2 separate regions of the Homo sapiens genome follow, and region 2 is linked to region 1. The links come from fine-mapping of genetic effects on gene expression. Tissue or cell type: tibial nerve. Region 1 holds a variant in brackets; the other region holds the start of a gene. All regions are shown on one strand. Distances are from middle to middle.

Region 1 (8,105 bases):
CAATGGGACATTCCTCAGGCACCCCAGGCAGTCCATGGTCCATCCCTGATCTTGAAGCATTTCTCCCAAACCACTCAAGTGGGCTTGTCTCCATCCCAGGTCCTGTTACGAAGAGGTGTTTTTCTCTCTCATTGCATGTGGAGCAATACTTCCATGCTATTCATCCTGTTATCACAGAATAAAAGAACGACTGTCTCCCCTAAGAGATATGGTGTGGGTCCCTGTGGCTAGACCATGTGATCTTACCCATAAACAGTCCTCACAAACACTCTCGATTTACGTCTAACCCACTCTTGTCACTGCCTGGCATTCGCGTGTGCCGTTCTTTCTGCCCTCTCTTTTCTTTGTATCTGTCTGCCCTTTGGAGGCCTCCTGCCTCTTCCAGGAGGGTCTCTCTGATTATTCTGGTGCCCAGAATTAGAAAGTATATGGGGTACATGCTGTGGTGTGTGGTAAGTGTTTAACAGCTGGTTCTCAGCATGTAGCTGCAACATGGATTTTGGGTGATATTTTCATTTACAATAAAGTGTAAGATGAAAGTGGAACAATGAACATATGTCAGAACTTCACTTGTTTGTCAGTGATCTAAATAACTTCTTTCCTAAATCACATAATAGTTTCGGAATACTAGAAGAATAGTCCCTCAGCTTTTTGTGAGCTATTCACAATATAACAGCTATCGACAAGACAAAAATTTCAGTTTAATCTGCATTATTGACAATTTTTTTCCATTACTTTCTTAAGTCCAGACAATGAACAAAACAAGAAATCAAGCCTTGATTTATAGCATTTCCATAAATAATCCCATTCTGGCTGATTCCCTGATTTCTGGCCACTCACGATATCCCTGGATGTGGCATGAGGAGGAGTGGACCGTGGCAAGCCCCCGCACCGGCAGGTGGAGCAGCGTCCACAGCGTAGGCAATGGGAATGTGTAGTAGAATGACTAGGAAATGATGGGTTCTGAGTATGTATTGCCTGTGTTTTTAATATAACTTCTTTGACTGTAAGTTTGTATAGTTTAGTTTTGAATAATGTCTGAGTTAAAACAGCTAACTTGAAACATTCCTGATCATCTCACAAGCCACTGTGAGCTGGCTCCAGCACACCACTGGCTGCATACCAAGAAAATCAAGTTGCAGGCAGAGACGAAAACCTTCAGACAGAATTGCGTGGCTGTGTCCACTCAGTTTCGTCAGGGGGTGAGCTTTATTAAGTGCCACAGTAACAGATACTGTCATTGGTTCAGTCAACAACTGTTTCTAACCCCATCTCACTTGGCTTTCCTGCACTGCAGAGGTTGGGAAGCTAAATCCATGTTTCCCAGACTCTTTTGCAGCCAGGGTGCAGGCCTTTGACACAGATCCTCACAAGCAGCCAGATACATCACCCAGCCCCGGATGTGCAGTCGAGTCCCATGAGCTGAAGTCTTTGGCATGCAGGTGATATCTGTCACTCACGGTGGCAGGGACATCTGGACTTGTGGGGTGGCTGTGGTGGACTTTGTAGGAGTTTGGTCCCTTGTGATTGGTGCTGGTACCAGCAGTTTCTACTAGACAGTGCCAGGGCATGGTTAGGCTTTTTTTTCTGGCTACCCTGACCCTTGGAGAGCTCCCAAGCTTGGTCTCTGGCTCTCACAGGGATTTAATGAGCTGCATGATAGCCTTTAATAAGTTCCTTTCTGTTTAAACTACCCAGGTAGAGGCTGCTGTCTGCAGGTGGGAAGCCCTGATTGCTGGAACCTAAGGGATGTGAGAAATCACTGTGGAGTGTCAAGGTAACCAGGGATCTGCTCCTGGGACCTATTAATCCACCTCTTTTAGAAGGAGTCCACAGTCCTGTTTGTATTTGAATATTCATGAACATTAGAAGAGCAACTTAGTCTGGGTATGGCTATGGCTGACAGAAGTATCATGCTGTGTCACAGCTGATTATTAGATCTGCATTTTTTGCCCTTTAGCTTGTCAAAATAATGTCTAAAAAACCAGATTGATCACAAAAGATGCATCATAATGCCACATAAAGATGTCACTCGGCGCCTTATAGTATTTAGGACCATAGAGGACACCTGGTGCAGCCTCCTCATTTTGCAGCTGAGCAAGATCTTTGAAGGACAAGGACCTGCCCAAGGCCATCTAGAAACACTGAAGTTGAGACTCATACCCGAGCATCTTAGCTTTTGCCCACCCCACGCTGTTTCTCAGTCTTAACCAGCAAGCTTTCCTTGTTATTTTGGTTTGTCTTACGTCTAGGTTTGATTTGGCAGCACATTTCAACATCTGGTGAAGGCATGGGAATAAAACAGTGTAGGTGGATGGAGCACCTAAGAGCAGAATGTTTGGTGTTCTCTCAGGGTACACTGGGCAAGGCCTGCTGGGCCGTCCTTCCTCGCCATGCTGCCTGCGTTTATTCAGTTAAGAAAGTGGCACATTTTGTATCTTTGAGAATGCAACTATTTTAGTTAGGAGAGTGATGTTCCGTCTATGGAAGACTTTGCCTCTCTCCATCTTGGGCTTGGAGAAGGTGTCCCATGTCCCAGCAGCATGGCTGTGTACAGTCATTGATTCTTTTGTTTACTTCTCCATGCCGTACATTTTGTTCCTGTCCCTTGATCACAAAGAAATAAATGAACGTTCCTGAGGCACTGACATGGGCCGGGTGAGGTGGGAGCCTCCTTCTAGATATTATTATCCTATTTAAATGCATTATGTTCCCACTCATTTCACGATTGCCCAGTATTCAGAGAAGTTGCATTACACAACTGAAGCTCCATAATAAATGCGTGGAGGTGAGATTCAAACCCACGTCTTTCCCATTCTACTTTTTGTGCCTTTCTGTTTTAATTTGCTTCTTGGTATTCCTGTGTATTATTAATAGTCTGAAGCTTGGAAATAGATGCAATAGTCATTAGAGTGAAGAAAATACAGTGCCGTGCTCTCTGAAGGATAACAAGGACATTTTTGTTGTAATTACTATTTTGATTTTTCTTTTAAGAATGTTGCCGAGGAAGGAAAACAGAGGGAAAAACCAGCAAAGCTCACTGTGTCTAACTTTTGCCACATGCATGGACCTAATTTCTTACTTGCCAAGCACTAGAGCCTTTATTTTTGAGACTCTGTGAGGGTGGCTGAGTTCTGTGTGTTTGCTGGGGTTGGAAAAATCTAGTGTGATGGGGGTCAGTGGCCCCATGACACGCCAAGGCAGAGTAAGCCACAGAGCTCAGTCTGCCATAGGTGTGGCTTCCTTCCTTCCTCACATCTGTGTCA[A/G]CACCCGGCAGGAGGTGCCTGATTCCAGTGGGGATGAAGCAGCCTCTGCCCATCCCTCCATCACCCATCAAGAGCTCTGGACACACATGAGGTTGAACCCCCAGATGGTGGCTGCCAGGGGAGTGTGTCCACCTCTCACTTAGGCCAGGTGCGTGGCATCTCACTGCGGCAGGCATCCCATGGGCGAGGTCGGTGCTCTCCTGATGTCTTTGATATTTTTCTTTATCTGGCCTAGTCTGAGACCAGTACTTTCCCCTGCCTGTGACCCCTGACTTCATTTGCAAAGTTTTCTCATGCACTTTCTGAAATTTTCATGACAGAGAGCCCTGGAGGAATTTGGGGCAACGATGGAGGTGGAAGAAGGTTTAAAGCTGGGAATCTTTATGCATTTTCTCTGTTTTCTCCTTCTCTTTATTTTTTTTCTTGACCTATACTTCACACTGGTCTCTGTCTTCTCCATGCTTAGAAAGCAGAGGAGGCTTGAGCTTCCAGCAAAGACCTTGCGACATGTTACTGGATACAGGCTGGTGCATAGAAGGGGTGGGTGGGGAGGGCTGACAGGAGGGTGTCCCTCCCCTGAGCATCACCGGCTCTGTTCTTGGCCAGTTGCTCTTTGTCCCCACATTTCAGGTTCTCTTCCTGCATTCAAGCATGGGCAGGGCCAGGGCTGCTGTTTCAGGACTGCATCTAGCCCTGAAGTTTTCTCTGGGCCTCCACAGGGGACCTTCCTACTCTGAACTCCACATGCATTCTCCAGGCCACACTGCACACTCACCCTACTCTCCAGTCATTTCCAACTACTTAGAATTCAGTCAGTGTTGAGAGTCACCAGTCTTATGTAGACTGGAGCCTGGCACATAGTAGGTGCTTTTTGCATGTTTACTGAGTGAATGAATGAACAGAAAATGAAATGCACTTTGCCTAAAAGCTGATCTGATCTGATCTGAGTGCCCAGGCATTTCACCCTTCTTCCAAAGCTCTCCTTTTGTTCCTGTGGCCCAGGGAATGCTCAGTTCCAGGCTTGGCAGAGGAGGGGTCTCTCTAGGCAGTGTGAAACAGACTGTGAAGCCCCCATGAGAAATAGTCCACCCACTGGGAAGGCCCCTCCGCTCCCAGGAAACTCCAGCCAGAGCACTCCAGCGTGGGGGCTAGGACTCCTCTTTTCCAAAGGAGAGTAGACAGTGGGAGGAATTCACCTCAGAATGATTTCCTGGAGCAGTTAGGAAAGTAGCATCTCTGAAGTCACAGAGGCTTCAGCTCCACTGGGCCGTGAGAATCCCTTACAGAATTCTGACCCCGACCAAGCAGAAAAGGGCACTGCCGCCTTTAAAACAGTTGACTGCAGAACAAAACAAAATGCTAAAATAAGACTAGAGTAGTTTGAAAATATTGGAAAGTTGAGAAAAAACTCCCCCAAATTCCATGATACTAGCATCATCATAGTATATAGCACATTACATATATAGTGTATTATATGGTATATTATGTATACATACTATGTATACTATATGTTATATGGTGTATGTACATAGTAAAAATTATTTTTCACATATCTATTGCTTTGGTATGTTTTCTTTCATGTTTTTGTTTATTTGGTAGATAGGCTTTTTTCCTGTTTTGTTTTACAACATGTTTATATCTGACACTAACATTGTATTATAAGCTTTTTTTTCCCATACTATTGCGTAGTCTTTATAGCCACACTTAAAAAATGAATCATTTATTTCTAAAAACAGTCAGGTCCATTTTATTTTGGCTTCTGGATCCTGCCCCTCCCCGGGCACTCTCCCACTGCAGAACTATGTTAGGCTCAGTTCCCCAGAGAGCCCTCAGGTTTTCCACACCACAGGCCCCATGCAAGCTTCTTGTGAACCCTGGGCAGTCCCTTCTGGGTCCTCAGAGCTCAGTTTAGATGCCACCATTGCCTGTTTGCAACACTGGCACATGTGCAGGTCCCTGTGTTCTGTACAGCTGAACTCAGGACTGCCTCATCACCACTGTCACTACCGCGCCTCGCACAGGGCCCGCATGCTGCATGCTCTCAGTGAATGCTTGCGGAATGAACGGAAGAGGGAATCAATGAACAAATGACCTGGTGGTCATTTTCTGTGTTTCCTCCTGGGGTTTTTCCTTTGGTGTATGCATTTTGTGTGTGTGTGTGCATAGAATAGGTTACACCAAATCTATAATCTTTTTGTCCTTTTGCCTCCTCAGCATTCGTTCATAAGCATAGCGAGCATCACTGTCCGAGGCTGCACAGTGCTTCGTCTTGCGTATGCATCCTGCTTTGTTCACCATGTCTCTGGAGTTACGCATTTACTTGCTTGTTGCTTTCACCACTATAAACCATGCCTCATTTCCCTCTCCTGTTAGGCAGATCTGACCCTTCAGCCTGCCTCTTCCAGCCATGGTCAGACTGTTGTTAGTCCAGCGCCTGAGGGAGAGTACTTTCAGAGTTCCAGGCCCTTGTGTGACCTCCACCCTTAAGGTGACTCTTGGCACCCACAGGCCAATCAGCTGTATTCTTAGAGAGCTCTCAGAATACAGGCTGGTGGGCTATTTCCCTAAGGAAAAGCTGGGTGGGTTCTCACTGGGGTTGGAACCAAGGGGAGATGAGGAAATGGGAATAGGTTGGACGCCCTTGGTGGAGCTTCATAGTTTGATTTTACATCAGAGTTGGAAAGCAAAGCATACCCTTCTGCTACAGCTAGTGGTTTCCCCACCTGCGCCTGAGCTATGGACTGGGCAGGGGCCAAGTGCCCAGCAAGGAGCACAGGGAAGGAGCAGGAGGTGGAGAAGCTCAGAGGCAGGCTGCAGTAGGCTCCTCGCCCTTCTCACCATGCGGATGTCTCCTCCCTTGGCCCTATGGGAATATGGAGGGCTCACATTCTCCTCTCTGTGCAGGAGCAGGTCTCCACACTCTTTGGGAGGAGGAAGTTGACTTCTTTCTAACAGTTGCTGTCCTGTCATTCATTCATTCATTCATTCATTCAGCAAAGGCTTCCTGAGCTCCTGTCCTGTTGCAGGCTTGATTAAGTACTACAGATGTGAAGGTGAATTGACATATTTGGGTTCTTAGAGTTTGCCTTCTAGCAGACCACAAACAAGTAAATATAATGTTGCACGTGGTGCATGCAGGCCTTTGGTGCCCAGGACAGTGAGGGCATGGAGGAGGGAGTGTTGTCTGTGTCTGAGAGCACTGGGCAAGCCTCAAGGGGAGACTGTGCCTGAGGTGCATTTTGGAATGAGTTCACAGGTACGATGGGAATGAAGCTGCCCACATGTACTTGGGAGTTGGGGGAAGAGTGGGGACACTTGACTCTCACAAGAAGCATGGCTCTGAGAAAATCAGAGACCGCGCAGAAGCTGACAGGGCATGTGATGTGGACAAAGGGGCCACCAGGCTGGGAGGCAGGTCTGGTAGACCGAGGAGCAATGGGTTGAAATTAGGGTCGGGACAGAGAGGGCTGCATGAGGAGCAAAGACCATGAAGTCCATGGTCCTCCAACACTGCGACCCTCATGCTGCGGCCTCCCTGTGCCCTCAGCACTCAGCCAGGGCCAGAGGTAGCTCGAGCATGGAGCAGGGGCTGAGGGTGCATGGCTTCCTCATGATGGAGTCTACTTGTTGACAGATGACCCAGAAACTTCTGAAGGGCCCCCAAGGCCCTAATGCAGCCCCCAGAGCAGGCTCTTTCCCTTCCCCTGCAGACTCTCCATTTCATGCCTGGTTAATCCCCAGGAACCACTTTTGACAGGGGAATCCTACGTTTCTCTCTACTGAGCTGTAGAGGCTGCTGCCCATGGGCATTTTCAGCAGAGACCTCAGTCCCTACTCTGCCTCAGGGAGGTGGGCCCTGGAGGATGGTGCCATCCATGCTCCTTGTCTCCTGAGAGGTGGTGCAGTCAGCACACCCATCCCACAGACAGCGGAGGAGGCCTGAGCATCAGGGTCCTGTCTGATGCCAGCTCATGATGCACTGTGCCTGAGTGATGAATGCCCATCTCACTGCCTGTCGCTTCCTCTCTCTGCAGGGCCCTGTGGCCGAGTGTGTCCAGCCCAGTGTCATGGGGAGCTTCCATATCTCATGGCTCCTTGCTGGGCCAAGCCCTCCAGAACCCCAAACCCCCAAAGACTGATGAATGCCAGAGTGGCCACCTTGCTTATCTGTGGCCCCGGCCCTGGTGATCACCATGGCAGCTGGGAAGGGAGCCCCGTTGAGCCCATCGGCTGAAAACAGATGGCGACTTAGCGAACCTGAGCTGGGCCGGGGCTGCAAGCCAGTGCTGCTCGAGAAGACGAACCGCCTGGGCCCTGAGGCTGCTGTGGGCAGGGCGGGCCGGGATGTGGGCAGTGCGGAGCTGGCACTGTTGGTAGCCCCAGGCAAGCCCCGACCTGGCAAGCCGCTGCCCCCGAAGACACGTGGAGAGCAGAGGCAGAGCGCCTTCACGGAGCTGCCGAGGATGAAGGACCGGCAGGTGGATGCTCAGGCCCAGGAGAGGGAGCACGATGACCCCACAGGCCAACCTGGTGCCCCACAGCTGACCCAGAACATCCCCAGAGGCCCAGCTGGCAGCAAAGTCTTCTCTGTGTGGCCCAGCGGAGCACGAAGTGAGCAAAGAAGCGCCTTTAGCAAACCAACCAAGCGACCAGCAGAGAGGCCTGAGCTAACCTCAGTCTTCCCTGCAGGGGAATCTGCAGATGCCCTGGGGGAGCTGTCTGGACTCCTCAACACTACAGACCTCGCTTGTTGGGGTCGACTTTCAACTCCCAAGCTTTTGGTTGGTGATTTGTGGAACTTGCAAGCATTGCCACAGAATGCTCCACTCTGTAGCACTT
Region 2 (8,105 bases), 23 kb after region 1:
TAGAAGGCCCAGGAATGGACTCCCCTCTGACCTCTCCAACCTTACCAGATACTTCCTATGTCTCTAAGCTGCTCCACTGGGGCAGGATTGGAAGATGTTAGTTACCTTTACCAGGCACCTGGCCCGGTACTAAGCACTTTGTAGAGCTTATCATCATCCTCACAGCCACCTGTACAGGAGATAACACGATCCCCATCTTTTCCATGGAAAAACTGAAGCACAGAGAGATTAAGTAACTAGTCTCAGGTCACACAGTCAGTAAGTGGTGGAGCCAGAATCTGAATCCACATCTGACTCCAAATCGTGAACCTTGGCTATACTGGAAAGGAAGGAGATGTTGATTTGGAAACTGGGGATTCTGCAAGCCTAGCACAGGCTACTCGCACGTGGATGCACCTCCTCCTCCCTCTCTAAGGCTGCTGGAGGGAGGCAGGTCTTGGTGAGATTGACAGGCAAGGAGACTTCATTGACAGAGACACTGCCCTCCAGGCCCTGCCCTGCCCTCAGTCACAGCTCTCTGGCCTCAGGCCACTCCCCTCTGCTCCTCTCCGGGCCTCAGTTGCGGAAAATGGGGATAACAATTCTGTAGTAGATGCTTTTGGCACTCTCAGCCCCCTCTGCTTTCAGCTGCACCCGACCCCACTGACAGGCTCTCCTATAGCACAGCCCTGCCTTTCCACCCGTAGCTCAGGCCTTCTCCAAGAAGAGGGAGCCTGCCCCACCCTGAGGCATGTCTCAGGGCAACTCTTGGCCAATGCGGGACAGGAACCACTGGGCCCTGCCTGCAGAGGGCTATGCCTGGGAGCATCCCTGCACTCGTCAGGGTCCTGGCTTCAGCAGAACAGCTTTGAGGCACCTGCCTGTCAGCTTCCCAACCCACTCTCCCTGCTCCCTCCTTCATGCCTGCTTCAGTAACCGCCTCCCAGACAAAGCGCCTGCACCCAAGCCCTGGTCTCAGACCCTCCTTGCAAGGGATCCCATGGCAAATGCTGCCCTGCCCAATTGTGACGATGCAGCAGACCACAGGTAGAACAGTGTGGAGGTGTGAGTGCTGCCTAGGTGGAGCTCTCGGCCAGCGTGGGGCACTTGGTGAAGTCCATTGGCCACCTCTGACAGGTGTTGGCCTCTTCCCTAGCACTGACAATGAGAAGCCCTGCCAACACTCACCTTCCACCCAGCCAAGGCTGAAATGCCTTCTATCCCAGGAGCTTCCGAACTGGCTTCCTGTGAGTATTGGTTGGCTTTCAAACTGGCTTCCTGTGAGGTGGGTGCAAAAGTAATTGCGGGTTTTGCCATTGAAAGTACTTTTGCACCAACCTAATATGAATGTTCTACAGAGGTGTTCAGCAACCCCAGGGTCACAGAGAGTGGATGGAACAGGTTGAGAAAGAGGAAAGGACTTGACCGGTCAAAACTTAAACGTGAGAACAAATCTAAAAGCCATTGTCACGCACTGTGCACAGAGCCCTGCATGTGCGGACAATGGGTCAACTCACTCCCGGGACTGGGTTCAGCCAGGTCTCTCTTGGGTCTCACCTGCATGGGCACAATTCCAGGAATGCGGTCCTTGGCATTCTCAGGGATATGGGCTGCCTTCAGGTGTGGGTCTCCGGAGAGCATCTGCAGGTCAGCCCCCAGGATCTCGGCTAGGGCCACTTCTGAGGTCACCCTGGAGTAGCGGCTCTGCAGACCGCTCAGTTTGGTGGCCATCTTGGCCCCCAGCTCGGCAGAGGCATAGTTATCAGCCACCAGCTTCCCGGCCGTCTGCAGCACCGTGGGCACCTTGGCACGCAGAGCCACTATGTCCTGGGCTATGGAAAGGGCTTCGCTCATGGGCACAGTGATGTCGGGCTCCACACCAGCCAGGTCCCAGGCCTTGCCTGTGGTGGCACTCATGGCCATCTGGGTGGGCATGGATGCATATAAGGGGCTGCTGCCCACCTGGTAGATGCCCACAGAGAGTGCGCCTCCGGCCGTGGGCTCCCCAATGACCGTGGCCCGCTGCAGGTCCTGCATGGTGTGTGCAAAGGCCTCGGCCGCAGAGCCACTGGTGTGGCTCATCAGGATGTAGAGGTCCTTGTGTGAGCCGTAGCGCTGGCCGGCGACCTGGGGCAAGGTCCACACCTCCGTGACTTTTGAGGTGGCCCTGTCAAAGACAGAATACAGGTGCTGGCGGGGCTCTGCCTCAAAGAAGTAGGAGCAGAGCAGCGGGATGGCCGTGGAGTAGCTGCCAGGGTTGTAGCGCAGGTCGATCACCAGCGCAGCCGTGTCCACCAGCTGTTGCCATACCAGCCGCACCAGCTGTGGCCCCACGGCCTTCACTGTCTCCAGTTCAGCCATGGCGTCAAAACGCAGGTAGCCCAGCTGGCCGGGCAGCACCTCTGTCTTGAACAGGGCCTCAATAAGGTAGGTGAGCTCCTCTGGAGAGGGGACAGCAGGGGGTGGTGGGGGTGCTTCCTCTACCACCAGCTCGCCAGGGCTGTGGAACACTAGCAAGCGGTGGTCCCCAGACACCTCCTGGAGGTCTGCTGTGAGCTGAGAGGCCAGAGACTCCAAGTCCACAGCTGTGCGGTAGGCGCCCTGGGCCAGCTTGGCCCGCAGGAGGGCACTGGTCTGCCCCACGACCTCTGGCCGAGCATAGTGGGCCTCCAGCAGGTGCCCTGTGCCCTCCACCAAGGCCCCCAGGCTTTGGTGGAACTCCAGCACTTCCTGGGCTTTGTCCAGGGCCTCCTCGGCCAGCACGATGGCATCGGGCACCACTCCACCACCCAGCCAGGCCTCGCCGTGATTGTCGATGAAGGTGAGGACCGGCACGGTGAGCGCGAGGCTGCCTTCGGGTGTGTCCAGCAGCGGCACCGTGCGGGTGTGCAGCAGGTTGCCCGCGGTGATCTCACCTACCAGTGTGGCCCAGCCCAGCGACTGCATAAGGAAGGCGAACTCCTCCGCGGCCGTGGCGGTGCGGTGGCTGGTGAGCAGATACACCCCACGTTGGGTGCTGTAGCGTGGGCCCGGGAGCTCCATGTGGCTGAAGTGCTCCTGCGTGATGTTGGTGCGGCGATCATAGGTGGTGAAGAGGTGCACGGGGCCGGCCTCAGGGCCCTGGAAGTAGGACAGGAGCAGGGGCACAGCAGAGGATGGCCCTCCAGGGTTGTGGCGCAGGTCCATGATGAGGTGCTCCGTGTCCTGTAGCGGCTCCCACACCTGGCGCAGGACATATGGGGCCAACACACCCAGGACGGAGGCGTCAGCAAAACTATCGAAGCGCAGGTAGCCCACATTGCCTGGCAGCACCGACACCTGGAACACAGAGTCCACCAGTGCTTGCCGGATAGCCTCGTCCTCAGGCAACTCTGGGGCCACCCCTGGTGAGTCTTCGGCTGCAGCGTCGGGCGCGGGCCAAGAAGGAGTTTCTGTGGGCCCGATGGCTCGCACCAGGAGCCTGGGATCCTCAGACGCAGCCTGCAGGCCGGCATTGAGCTTGGTGACCAGATCTTCCTCGGAGACCACCGTGGAGAAGTCCATGCTGGCCAAGTGCTGCAGCAGGGTGGGCACACGGTCCACCAGCGTGTAGTAGTCCTTCAGGACCTCCTGGAGGCAGTGGACTACCCCTGGAAGGGCGCTGCGCAGAGTGAGGATGGCCAGGGCTTTCTCCAGGGCCTGCTCGGCCGGAGTCCCCACACAGGGCAGCACCCCGCTGCCCTCCCACGTCTGGCTGCCTCCACCAAGGGGCCCCAGGGACCTGGACACGGGCACCGTGAAGAAGAAGTCAGACTCGCCTATCCTCAGCTTCCGGAGGTCCAGGGCCCCTCCCCCAGTCCGCTCGCCCACCACGATGGCCCTGCGCATCTGCTTAAGGATGTGCGCGATGTCCTCGGCCACGCCCCTGGTCTGGCTGCTGGTGAGGACCACCACATCCTTGTCGGCACCGTACCTTTCTCCCAGGACCTGGGGCAAGGTCCAGATCTCCGTGGTGGTGTTGGAGGGGCGGTTGTAGATAGTGTCCACGTGCAGGATGGTGTTCCCTGGGTGCAGGTAGGAGATGATGTAGGGAATGCCAGAGACCTGGCCTCCTGTGCAGTGCCGGAGATCCAGCACTAAGGCGGAGGTGCCCATGAGATTCCCCCACACGTGGGCCACCAGGAACTCCCCCATCATGCTCAGCACCTCCTGGCCCGGGACGCTGTCCACCCGCAGGTAGCCCACATTACCCTCCAGAACCTCATGGCGGAGGCCCCTTTGCAGCCAGGCAAGCAGTTCCTCTTCTGAGAGGCTGGTGAGTGCTGGGACTTGTGGGGGAGGCTCGGGGGTGCTGGGCTCATAGGAGATGACCAGGCGAGGATCGTTCAGGGAGCTCTGCACCCCGGCTGTCAGCACACTGGCCAGCGTCTGCGGGTCTGAGATGCTCAGAATCTCATGGCTCTTGATGGCCTGCTGGATGGCTTCCTGCATGCCCAGCAGGTTCTCCGGGAAGCAGTAGTTATCCAAGAGGACCTTGGCCATGTCCAGCACCAGGCTTGGCTGGAACAGGTGTGTGGGGCCAGCCAGGCCACAGAGCAGCACGGACATGAGCAGAACCCATTCTCTCATCATGGGGACCCAGGGGGAGGCCTGGCTCCTGCACAAAAGCTCCCTGGACTGTGTGCAAGGCCGTGGCCCTGCTCTGTGCAGCTGCCTTCCGCCCTTGTCCTTCTCAGCTGGTGGACAGAAGGTCTGGGGCTAAACTCCTGAGTTGGGGCAAGGCTTCCAGCTCCAGTAAGCCTTTAATCCTGTCTAATTCAAGCACATCAACCCTGGGTATCGGGGAGGAGTGGCCAGGGTGGTTTGACCCAGAAGGTACATTGCATCTTATCTTGCTGTGTTGTGTCTGCATATCATAACATTAATCACTGCCATTATTTTAGTTCCTGCTACATGCCAGACACTGTGCTCCATCCTTTACAAGCTGACAGTTTCCACCAGAGCCTTGCAAAGTCCAGTTATTAACTTGCAAGTCCTCCTTGGAGAACTGTTCTGCCACTGTCTCTCCCGTGGCCTCAGGGAAATGTCTTAATTACTTATTGTGTAGATTAAATGAGAAAATATGTGTAAAGCACTTCTTCCCAGTACCCAGTAAGTAGGAAGCACTCATTACTGGTAAGTTATCTGTATTAGATATTACCTCTGTTTCATAGCTAAAAAACAAAAAAACAAAAAAACAAAACAAAACAAAGCAAAGCAAAACAAAACAGGCCAGAGAGTTCTGTAACTAATAGAAGCCCATCGTTTTAGGTGTGGACAGATAGGGGGTGCAGCAAGAAGAAGTCCTTGGGGCTACAATTGGCCCATACAGTGCAGAGGCTGAGTCTGAGGCTGGCATCAGCCTCAGAGCTTGAGATTTATTTCTATGTCCCTTTAATGCCTCCAGGGAACAGAACGGGTCCCCCTACAGCTTTCTAATGCTGGGAATGATGTGTCTGGACCACCATGTAGGGTGTGGAGTGTAGAGGCGCCCACCTTCCAGACATCACAGGACTAGTGTTCCCATTCAAATGAGGTTAGCTCTGAGAGTTAATGGCTAGAGGGGACTCCTGCTTCTTGAAGGCTCAGCCCACAGCCTGCAGTTCGCAGGGAGAATCAAGCAGGAAGTCTTGGGTCTCCGTGGTCCCAGGCTTCACATGGAATCCAGATCATTCCTCCTGACTGCATAAAGCACAAGAAACAGGGAAAGGTAGACTGCTGAACTCTTCAGATCCCAGCTCCTGCCACTTCTTATAGAAATAATGTGGGTGCTGCTTGCAACTGACTGGCTGTAGAAATCCAAGAAGTCCTGCTATGGGGTCGGAACCTGGAAGCCCTGCTTTGCCGCTGAATGCCTCTGGAGATGGGCACTTTCCTCACTTAACAGACAGACAACTACGGCCCAGAGAGTGGTCGCAAGGCCAGGGCAGAGCGTTGGGAGAGCTGTCCCAAGCTGGCTCCAGCAACACCGCCTTGGCTGAGCGGGCAGCAGGCAGGCGCCCCTGTGTGCCTCAGTAGGCAGCTGGAGAAGGTGGTCTCAGGGACGTGGGCTTTCTCTACACAGCTGAGACCCACAATCTGCTCTTTGGAAATCATTATCTGAGGATGTTTACCAACTGCTTTATGAAGGCCAAAGAGGTCAATTAGCTAAAACAAACATATTTTTAGCTCATTAGGATTTGTGTAATGCTCAAGTGACATATGGTCACATCACTCCACCGTATGCAGCCAATGGAAGTGAGCCTGATTTACGATGAGAATGGGGTGGGGCTGGGATGCTGCCAACACCTCCGGATGAATGCACTCCTTGCATATCCTTAGCCCTGCTGGGAAGCCTGGGCCTTCTCCTCTGCCTCCACTTGGAGAATCACAGTTCTGAGCATGCACTTCCGTGTCCTCAGAGGGCACTTGTCTGCCATTGCTTGAGTCCAGGCAAAGCTTCTGGCCCAGAAAGGGCTTGGGGGAGAACAGGAGTAAGACTGTCTTTGGGGAAAGGATTCCCTGGAGTCTTACTAAGATGTAGTTTCAGGATAGGATTGTCTGGACCTATCACTGGGATTTGATTTGTGTGGCTAGCCCAGAGCCTTAAGAAGGACGTGAGAAAAAATCAGACTGTTGCAAGTCCCTGGGGTGCCTGAGTTGGATGGGGCATGGGTAGAGAAGCAGTGCTTCTCCTGTGGGTAAGGCCCAAGCAGGTGGAAGAGCAAGTTCTGTCCTCAGAGTTCTCCAGACTCCAGGGGGCCAGGGTGTCCTTGCCCCCAGGCCGTGGGGGGATGTAGGAAGATGGCAGCCAGCCTCCTTAGCTCATGAGGAGAATATGTTCTGGGTAAGTCCCCAGAGTGAAAGCCGAGAGCTCTACATCTTCCCATCCAGACCCTGACAACTGTAGGGCCAGGGTGGGTTCAGAGAGTCCACTTGATCTTGGGGGCTGAGTTTTGGAGTTGGAGGGGGCTGGAAGGCCCTGCACCCCCTCACTTATACAAATGTCCTGTGGGCAGAGCTGTGCAGGGTAGCTTAGAAGCCATCCTGAACTGAACTGGTGAGAACTGAATAGGTGAGTGGGTGAGATCTTGATAAGGTGACATGAGACCTTGATCAGGCGACATGAGACCATGATTAGGTGACTCGACTGCTCTGAGCCTTGGCTTCTTCAAAAGGGAAAACAGAATAAGGAGAAAAGCCTCAGTATTGCTGGAGGATTAGGTGTTTCCATCCTAGAAGTTATGAAAGGAAGTTGAGGACGTAGGAGTTGGTGAGGGGCAGCTTGGGTCTGCCTGGGATTAGAACACCCCTGTGGTATTAGGGAAAGTCATTCCAAGAGGCTGGGGCTGCCCTGGAGACCTGGAGTCCTAGGGCTTCTTAGGCTCCAAACCTTTCCTGGGCCTCTACATATCTAAGGAGAAATGACCAGACCCAGGCTCCAGAGCCCAGCCCTGCAGCACCTGCAGCGCAGGTTAAGAGGGGGACAATGACACATCAGGGCTGCTGCAGGGATGGTCAGGGAGCAAGCGGAGCTGGGCAGTACAGGAAGGAGCGTCTTGCCTATTGCATCACAGATGTTGTCTTTTCAGTGGCCAAAGCCCTCGTCTGTCTATTGTTTTATGTTAGTTTTCCCCTCGATGTTTTATAATGGAAATGTTCAAGTGGTACAGCAAATATCTATATGCCATCATTTAAAGAAATGCTTTGACATGTTCACATTTTAAAGAACTTATCCGAGCAGATAGCGATTCATGAATCTGGTAGCTCCCCACAAGAGGCAGTTTGGGGCTCTGCAAGGGAGCACAAGGGGAGGCTTCCACAGGGTGAAGGCAGAAGTGGAATAAATATTACAGATGCTTTGGTTGCTTAGCGTTTCGGCCCTTGCATGATTTGGGACATCCTAGTGGAAAGTTCGAGACCATGCAACTGATGTCCAGTTGGCCATCAGTGGTTGGCTGGACTTAAGCTTCGGTTTCTTTTAAATTAGCTGCTTACAGTAAATGAGTCTGAGTTAGATTTCAATTTGCTCTTGTAGGAAATCAGGGCGTTAGAGCCACCTTAGTTTAATGGCTGCCTCCCTAGATTCTACCACAGACATTTTATTACCCCTTTCTCATCTCAGCTCC

Direction of the effects. Alleles are on the strand shown, and positions count from the first base shown. SD is a standard deviation of normalised expression in the study named.
With allele G in place of A in region 1, the expression in tibial nerve of the gene that starts at base 4,712 in region 2 is lower (small effect, 0.36 SD a copy in GTEx).

What was found. PIP is the estimated chance that this variant, and not a neighbour inherited with it, causes the effect.
Region 2: RBP3 starts here. The variant in region 1 is the best candidate, but not a certain one, in a credible set for the expression of RBP3 in tibial nerve (GTEx, PIP 0.80).

What each region holds. Positions count from the first base shown.
Region 1 is chr10:47,368,133-47,376,237 of GRCh38, reverse strand. It overlaps ZNF488 (zinc finger protein 488), which reads left to right. Exons shown (of 2, transcript NM_153034.4): 2 at 7,301-8,105. The coding sequence starts at 7,409. Among named protein-coding and RNA genes, the nearest start is that of ZNF488, 12 kb to the left of the region's middle. The variant A/G (reference allele first, on the strand shown) is at 3,267.
Region 2 is chr10:47,344,970-47,353,074 of GRCh38, reverse strand. It overlaps RBP3 (retinol binding protein 3), which reads right to left and starts at 4,712. Exons shown (of 4, transcript NM_002900.3): 1 at 1,537-4,712. The coding sequence starts at 4,590.